2 linked regions of the Homo sapiens genome follow. The protein of the gene in region 1 purifies or fractionates together with the protein of each later gene. This does not show direct contact. Each region holds a gene or a part of one and is shown in the gene's direction. Other genes may lie near its edges.

Region 1 (4,482 bases):
ATCCAAATCAGGTAGAAGTAACCTGGATACCCCCTACTTGAGACTGACGTCTGAAGGGAAGGCAGTCTTGTGGGATTGATTTCTGCGACATCTGGAGTCTGATGCTCCAGACTGCAGTAAGTGTCAGGACTAAATTAAATAGTAAGACACTTAGTTGGTGTGAGAGTTGGAGAAGTAGTATTGGAAAAGACACTGTGAATTTGATTTCAAAAGAAAAAAAAGTTTCGCTATTTTTGTTTTGTTTCCAATTATTATAAAACTGGTTTATGTCTTACTTGGCACGGACAGAAATTCTTTACATGTCTGCTTGACATAACAACGTCACAGATTCTGGACCGTAATTTATGGTAAATGGCAAATCAAACACAGAAGCATTCACCCAGAGCACTAAATAGTCTTTGGGCAGAACTATTAAACACCAAAAGAACAGGCTACCCTGTCCTTATCTTATTTTCTTTTAGATAAGTTTTTATAATATTTAGACCAGAATCAACATTACTCTGCCTTAGAGGGATTTTTTTTTCTTTCAGAACAATCACAATAATGATATCAATGAACATGGATAGAGAATATACTATGGGCCAGATAGTCTCCCAGGTGGTTTACAAGTATTTTATTTATTCCTTTCAATAATGCTACAAAGCAAGCAATTTTATTATGCATCTTTTATAGGAAAGGAACATGAAGATCATGTTATCCAAAAATCATGAAATGGGTAAGGAATAGAAGCTAGATTCAAAACAAAACACAAAAACATTTAAACATTTAAACATGCAAAGTTGGGAATTGATTAGTTTATAGGCTATCAAAGCATTGTGACCCAGTTCAAAATAGTTGAAATTCCCCTTCAGATTTTTTTATAAAAGGCAGTATTTCTCAAAGTGTAATCCATAAGTATTCTGAATGATTCAGATGTTCCTCAACCTTTAAGAACCACAAATCTATGATGTGAACATCAAAGTTCTTTCACTCTGCTACCTCATGACAGTTAATATAAATATGGTATTTAAAACCGTTAGCATTGTTTACATTGCTATATTAATGTAGAAGTTCACAGAACAAACAGCTAATTAAAAGATTAAATAACACGCATGTAAATGCATGTAAAATGCCGAGCATATTCACTAGCATGTAGAAATGTTCAATAAATGAAATATATTATTATTATCATGATACAATTACAGAAAATTAAAAACTTATTTCAGGTAATTAAGTCATATTTATTCAGTTCAGGGATTGTCAATGATCAGAATTCTGGATTTTGTCTTTACTAATTCATTGCACTTGCTATCCTTAGCCAGGGACATATCTGTTCATCTTCCCAATCACAGTCGTTTTGCTTTTACCAAAACTTGGATGCTAAATTAGTTCACTACATATATTCACCCTTAGGAAATACTGAAATCTGTATTCCCTTGCCAAAGGTGATTTACCTTTCCAAGTGGCATAGCTCCAGGGAAGATATTTGGTTGTTGGAAACTTTCAGTGACCACATAGGATTTTTAACTAAATAGAGCATGAGACCAGAGGCACAAAGCAGTATCCACAACACTAAGATTAAGCAAACATTTGTACTCAAACCATCAGAAAGATTCAGTCCCATATATATGTCACACTGGCTGTGATTCTCCACTACAAAGGTGAGTCTAATTTGTTTGAGAATTATTTTTCCTTTACTTTAGGCAGTAATTTCAAATTACTCATATTTATTATGTATTTGGCATTCTACATATGAATTTTGAATTGTAAAGTAACCTTTGTAAAGTTGAGGGACAAATCACACAAAGTAAATGTTTTCCTGTCATCCACGGGGTGTTTTGAATATGTAAGATGCAGTCTGTGTCTACCCAGAACCAAAAAGCCAAAAATTCTTGAATAAAGTTGTTAATTAAGTCAAATGATTGAATTTGTATTAGAGGATTCTTTTCTACTGAACAGTGTGGCTGTTTCAATATTTTCCCCATGTTATATCAATAGCTTGTGGACATACAGACACTGCCTTTGTGGAGGGTAGGATGTCAGAAAGAAGAGAAAATAAGATTGTTGAGTGGAACTCTATTGTTCCAGAACAGTGATCTGTGTCTGTTTTCAAGTAAGTATGAATGTGGGGAAGGGGATGATAATCAGTTTACCTACCAGCTTCAGAAAGGGCATGGTTTTGAAGTTAATAGACACAACATTCCTCACCTACATCTAAAGAAATTGCCTAGAAGAGCTAAGAAAGACAAATAGAAGTAAATATAAATATACATACTAGAAATATATATAAATATATGTAGAAAAATATATAAATATATATTTTATACATAAAATATAAAAATATTAGAATGTTTTAAGTCCAGCTATCCTATTTAATAGCTTAGAATTAATAACAGCCCATGAATTGACTTGAAGAAGAAATATTTATAAGCATCTGTTCACATTATTATAATTTGCTGAGTTAATATAGCCTTTAGTTGATGGATTAATGGTCCACTTGACAAATAAATATAGCTGTATATTTACAATGCCAAAAAATCCTTTATTCAAAAAATACATTGGATGGTAATTAGTAAAAACAGTCAAGCTGCAATAGCTCTGTATACCTGAAAGAAGAATTACTACAGTTAAACCAAATTTTCTATTAAATTATCTGACTGATACAATGTGCTGAAAAGTCTCATCTATAACAATATTATACATCATAATTTTTCACAGCTTAGGATGATGCTGGTTTATTTATTTTTGTTAACTTTTAATGTTAAAGAAAAAAACAATGGTTCCAAATTAAAGTGATGTTTACTCTTTACCTCTGTCTGTAGAGAAGAGAATTCAATTTTGAATAAGTATAACCATTCAGAATGAAAAAGTATAAGCATTTAGAGAATCTAAGAATTTTCAGATCTTAGACTTTCACCATCATGTCACCATAGCCTTCAGTTCAATAATCTAATTAATATTTTATGCTGTGATTGTCAAGCTTCTGAATACGTCAAAATATGGCACCATAAAATGAACTAAACTAATAAATTAAATTAAAAATTAAAATTTTGTTTTGGTGTGCAATATGACATTAAAAAAACTATTTTCAAACTCTGTTATATGCAAAAATCATGTAATTTCTTTTTAGTAATCTTTTTAGAAAGTTCAGTATTGATCTGTGGCCTGTTAGGACCTGGGCTGCATAGGAGGTGAGCGTCAGGTGAAGGAGCATTACCCACTGAGCTCTGCCTCCTTCAGATCAGCAGCAGCATTAGGTTCTCATAAGAGTGTGAGTCCTATTGTGAACTGCACGTGTGAGGGATCTATATCACATGCTTTTTATGAGAATCTAATGCCTGATGATCCGAGGTGAAACAGTATCATCCCGAAACCATCCCCTCTCCTACAACCCCCATCTGTGGAAAATGTTGGGGACCGCTGATTTAAAAACATATGAGTAAACAAAACAAAAGAAAACAAAAATGTTAAGTAACTTTCCCCTTATATCATAATATAAAATGACAGAAATGATTCTTTTTTCCCATGATTTAATGTTTACCTTTTTCTTAGCACAAATAAAAGTCATGTAACTTTTCAGGTAGAAAATGTTATTTCACATACTTCCTAAAATCATGACACATACCAGCAATGGTACACCTACTGTAATCTGGAAAAAGCTGACTAGACACAGGTGATTTTTTTTTTTTTGGTGCTTCTCTGCACACTCTATTTTATTATTCTATTTTATTTTACTCTGAGTTCTGGGATACATGTGCCAAACATGCAGGTTCATTACACAGGTATACACGCGCGATGGTGGTTTGGACAACAGTGATTTTTAAACAAGGACTTTTTAATATCAAGTCCTGCCCTCCTTTATCCATGCATTCTGCATTAATAAAAGGAGTCTGATGGTGGTTTAAAGTTATAATGGAGGCAGTGGAAGCCTGTGGTCAAGGAGTCAGTGGGCTGTGGCAATCACATGAGAAAGATACTTTAAATAGTATGTAAAATAAAGGGACTGCATACACTACATAGGAAGACAGTAATGCAACCAACAAGGCTTGGCACAGGCTTGGCACATGTAGTGTCTTTGCCTATTTTGCCTGTTTTATTGTCCTATAATCTTTGTTTATTTCCCTGATAGCCAATGCTTAAATAAGCCATCTCAAAGACGCTGGTGTTACTGTGTGTTTGTGTCTGCTCACATCTGAATGCTCATATAGTGGATGTAGTAATTTAACCAGTCATTGGCACTGCCTTTCTGAAGGCCCTGAATGAGACCATCTGTGTATGAGATGAGGTCTAAAATCCTGCAAATATACAAAGGCATGACATTTGCGAATATTCTATGAATAAAAGTGGGAAATTAGCTCTTTGCCTCTTTGTGCTCTTCTCTTTATGAGTTGACAAGTTCTCTTCTTTGTATGGAGTTTAAAAATGGTAAACACTAAAAAACTTTTTTTTATGTTCAATATGTAACAGTCCTCAACCTGCAAAAGCTTTCTAAATGAAGTTGTA
Region 2 (3,820 bases), on another chromosome or scaffold:
TACTCAAGAGGCTGAGGTGGGAGGATCCCTTGAGCCTGGGAGTTCGAGGCTGCAGTGAGCCATGATTGCACCACAGCACTCCAGCCTGGGTGACAGAATGAGACTCTGTCTGAAACTAAGAGGAGAAAAAAAGGAGAGAAGGAATAAAATATTACTTTTTTTTGTTTTTTTGAGACAGATTCTCACTCTGTCGCTCAGGCTGGAGTGCAGTGGCGTGATCTCGGCTCACTGCAACCTCCACCTCCCAGGTTCAAGTGATTCTCCTGCCTCAGCCTCATGAGTAGCTGGGGTTACAGGCACCCACCACCACACCCGGCTAATTTTTGTATTTTTAGTAGAGATGGGGTTTCATCATGTTGGCCAGGCTGGTCTTGAACTTCTGACCTCAGGTGATCCACACACCTCAGCCTTCCAAAGTGGTAGGATTACAGGCGTGAGCCACCGCACCCGGCTGGAATGAAATATAACATTTTTAAAATGTATTAAGCTCCTACTGTGTGCTACTCTTATTCACTCAGGTCCGACCCCTTAGTCCTTTAACTACCTGGGGCTTCCTTTTCTTTTCTTTCTTTTCTTGTAGCAGTGGAGGAAAATGAGGCTGGTTAAGTGAAGTGAGCTCTGAGACCTTGTGTGACTTTGTTTCCATTGTATCCATTTGCATTAAGTGCAGTGAGCTCTGGCGGAAACCACCCTCTGCCCCGTCTGTTGGATCCATTTGCAGAGGCCTTGGCAAGGGCTCGCGTGATCCCCGTCCTGCTCACCCAGGCCTGACCTGCGGAGGGGGCGGAAGCCTGCAGCCAGTGCCTGTCTCCTCCCTCAGGCCACTACTACGTGCCCCTCCTGAGAGCGGAAGAGACTTCTTCTCCAGTCATCGGGGAGCTGTGGTCCCCAGACCAGACGGCTGAGGCCTCTCACGTCAGCCGCTATGGAGGCAGCCCCAGAGACCCGGTACTGACCCTGAGAGCCTTCGCAGGGCCCCTGAGTCCAGCCAAGGTGAGCTGCTGTAGAAGCTTCTGGAAGTGGTGCCTGGCTGTCCCTATACTGTGCTGCTGGGTGTTCCAGCCTGTTGCCTTGTGCGTGGTCTCAGGGACCATGTCCTGTGGAGCCCCAAGGTTGTCCTCATCTCAAACCATCCACCAGTGATTGGTGATGAGAACGTTTGTCAGAGAAATGTGTGTTCTTGGCTCTGTGGCTTGCTTACCAGGGCCGATGTGCTGGGAGCCACTGTCTCAACAAAGCAGACATTCCCTGGGCCAGCCCCGTCCTGTGCGCGTGTCGCCCTGTTCTTGCTGTGTTGATGGCCCGTCCTAGGCACCTTGCTGGTGTAGCGAGGCTGCCCGTTGTGACTAGGAAAGCTCCATCTGCACGTCCACCTCCTGACCACGTTTCCCTGTGGCTGCAGCCCCCGCTGGCTTCCTCTCAGACAAGTCCCTCTCCTGGAAGCCTCAGCCCCAGGTTCTACTCATCCCCAGTGTTCAGAGAAATCCTTAATGGTGGTGTTGCTGGGTCAAAGGTTGTACACTTTTTTATTTACAGTTGACAATTCTTTCTCCTGTTGGAATACTTCACACACTGACCTGCACGCACCATCCTGTGCTAGAAACTTTCTAAATCAGTTGCGATGAAAACGGCTCCAGGCCGGGCGCCGGGACGCATGCCTGAAATCCCAGCACTTTGGGAGGCCGAGGCGGGTGGATCACGAGGTCAGGAGATCGAGACCATCCTGGCTAACACGGTGAAACCCGTCTCTACTAAAAATACAAAAAATTAGCCGGGCGTGGTGGTGGGCGCCTATAGTCCCAGCTACTCGGGAGGCTGAGGCAGGAGAATGGCCTGAACCCCGGAGGTGGAGCTTGCAGTGAGCCGAGATCGTACCACTGCACTCCAGCCTGGGCGACAGAGCGAGACTCCGTCTCCAAAACAAAAAAGAAAATGGCCCCAAAATTAGGTGGTATCAGGTAAGGTTAGGTGAGATGCATAAAGCATAAAGCTCTAGGGAGAGTGACTGAGAAAGATCTGGTTTCTTCTCCTGCGATGGGAGCAGTGTCACATGTGCGTCGGGGTGGCAGCTCCGAGCCGTCCACTGTCCTCAGGGTGAGGCCTCGTGCTCGGGCCCTCCTGGTTCTGAACCTCACAGCCCAGACGGGGCTGCAAGAAAGGAGACCGCCTCCCCTCCCCCAGGTCAGAGTGCAGCCGTGCGGCCACTCAGCCATGCCACAGGTGGGCACGTGGCCCAGGGATCTGCTAGTGAAGGGGAGAGAAGGAAGGGTGTGCGGAGACAGGCAGCTACTGCGATGACGACGGCTCTTCAGGTTTCCGCAGCTGAGGGGCGCAGTGCCTGACACGGCTCAATACATTTTTTTTTCTTCATAGGCAGAAGATTTTCGCAAGCTCTGGAAAACTCCACCTCGAGAGAAAGCAGGCTTCCTTCACCACGTCAAGAAGTCGGACCCGGAAAGAGGCTTTGAGAGAGTGGGAAGGTACTGAAAGGCTGAGCCGCAGCAGCGTGGGGCACACAGTTGGTTGCATTTTGATTAATGACAGAAGGTCAAATCACAGCTTCAAAGTACCAATTTCCAGAAGGCTTTTCTGGGAGACTTGGTCCTTTTCGTGAAGGTCTAATTCCTTGTGGATGTTGTGGAATTCTAGCTTAAGCCAGTCCCGTCCCAGACCTGGGGGATGTCTGCAGTGCCTTCCTTTCCTTTTCTAATTGGAATTCCTTGTTGGTTCTGGGACATGTTTCTAAGGAACCTTAATATTTTATAGAAGGTACCATATAATGCTATGGATTCCTTGGGAAAAAATAGGCCATAGCCACAAAGCTAAATTATGCTGTAATCAAATAAAGCTTCGTGGAATTGTTTAGAATATTTTCTCAAAATATGTGCCCAGTGTCAGGTGTACAACTGGAACCCAGAAAGGACCTCCAGGCTTTCGTGTGCCTGGCCATGACTAGAACCACGGGCAAGTTCACAGGGCTGTTCCGTGATCATGAACACGTCCGTCTGTGGGAGTTGAACTGTGTGACCTGGGTTGCTGGCGTGAGGGTCTGTCGGGCTGAGGCCTCCTTCCTGCCTGCAGCCGGTTCACGGCTCCTGAGAGCTGTGCCGGGTCCTGCTTACCTGTGAGGAGGCGTGCTGTTTCAGAAAATGCACCGTATGATTTCAGCTGCCAGTTAAGGATAAAGGAAAATTATAACCATGATTGCAGACATTGCTTTGGTACTTGAAGCTTTAGTGGCTTTTTTCTGTGTAGTTCTGAGTATTTTTTCTGGTTTCACAGCTGGTTAATTGTGTTTTGTTTCTTACAGGGAGCTAGCTCATGAGCTGGGGTATCCCTGGGTTGAATACTGGGAATTTCTGGGCTGTTTTGTTGATCTGTCTTCCCAGGAAGGCCTGCAAAGACTAGAAGAATATCTCACACAGCAGGAAATAGGCAAAAAGGCTCAACAAGAAACAGGAGAACGGGAAGCCTCCTGCCGAGATAAAGCCACCACGTCTGGTAAGCATGTGCAGGCGTGGCTGTGGCAGCTGGGAGGGGCCCCCCATGGCCGGGGTCTGACGGGATGCGCACATCTGTTTCTCGTCTCTTGGTGTTTTTAACGTAAAGGTCTGGTACTTTCCCTTAGGTTAGTATTTTTTGAGACGGAACCTCTCTTTGTTACCCAAGCTGGAGTGCAGTGGCGCAATCTTGGCTCACTGCAACCTCCACCTCCTGGGTTCAAGCGATTCTTCTGCCTCAGCCTCCTGAGTAGCTGGGACTACAGGCGCCCGCCACCACGCCTGGCTAATTTTCGTATTTTTTTTTTTTTTAGTGGAGA

What was found.
Region 2: the proteins of OR2T33 (region 1) and ANKLE2 purify together in Homo sapiens (affinity purification with mass spectrometry; one large-scale study listed by BioGRID and IntAct). This does not show direct contact.

Annotation. Positions count from the first base shown.
Region 1 is NC_000001.11:248,274,923-248,279,404, reverse strand, and holds the start of OR2T33 (olfactory receptor 2T33), read left to right. Parts: upstream 1-1,428; 5' UTR 1,429-1,640; intron 1,641-4,482.
Region 2 is NC_000012.12:132,734,066-132,737,885, reverse strand, and holds part of ANKLE2 (ankyrin repeat and LEM domain-containing protein 2), read left to right. Parts: intron 1-665; coding exon of another isoform or gene 666-673; exon of another isoform or gene 674-810; intron 811-820; coding exon 821-993; intron 994-2,373; coding exon 2,374-2,480; intron 2,481-3,310; coding exon 3,311-3,501; intron 3,502-3,814; coding exon of another isoform or gene 3,815-3,820. UniProt on the Homo sapiens protein: Involved in mitotic nuclear envelope reassembly by promoting dephosphorylation of BAF/BANF1 during mitotic exit.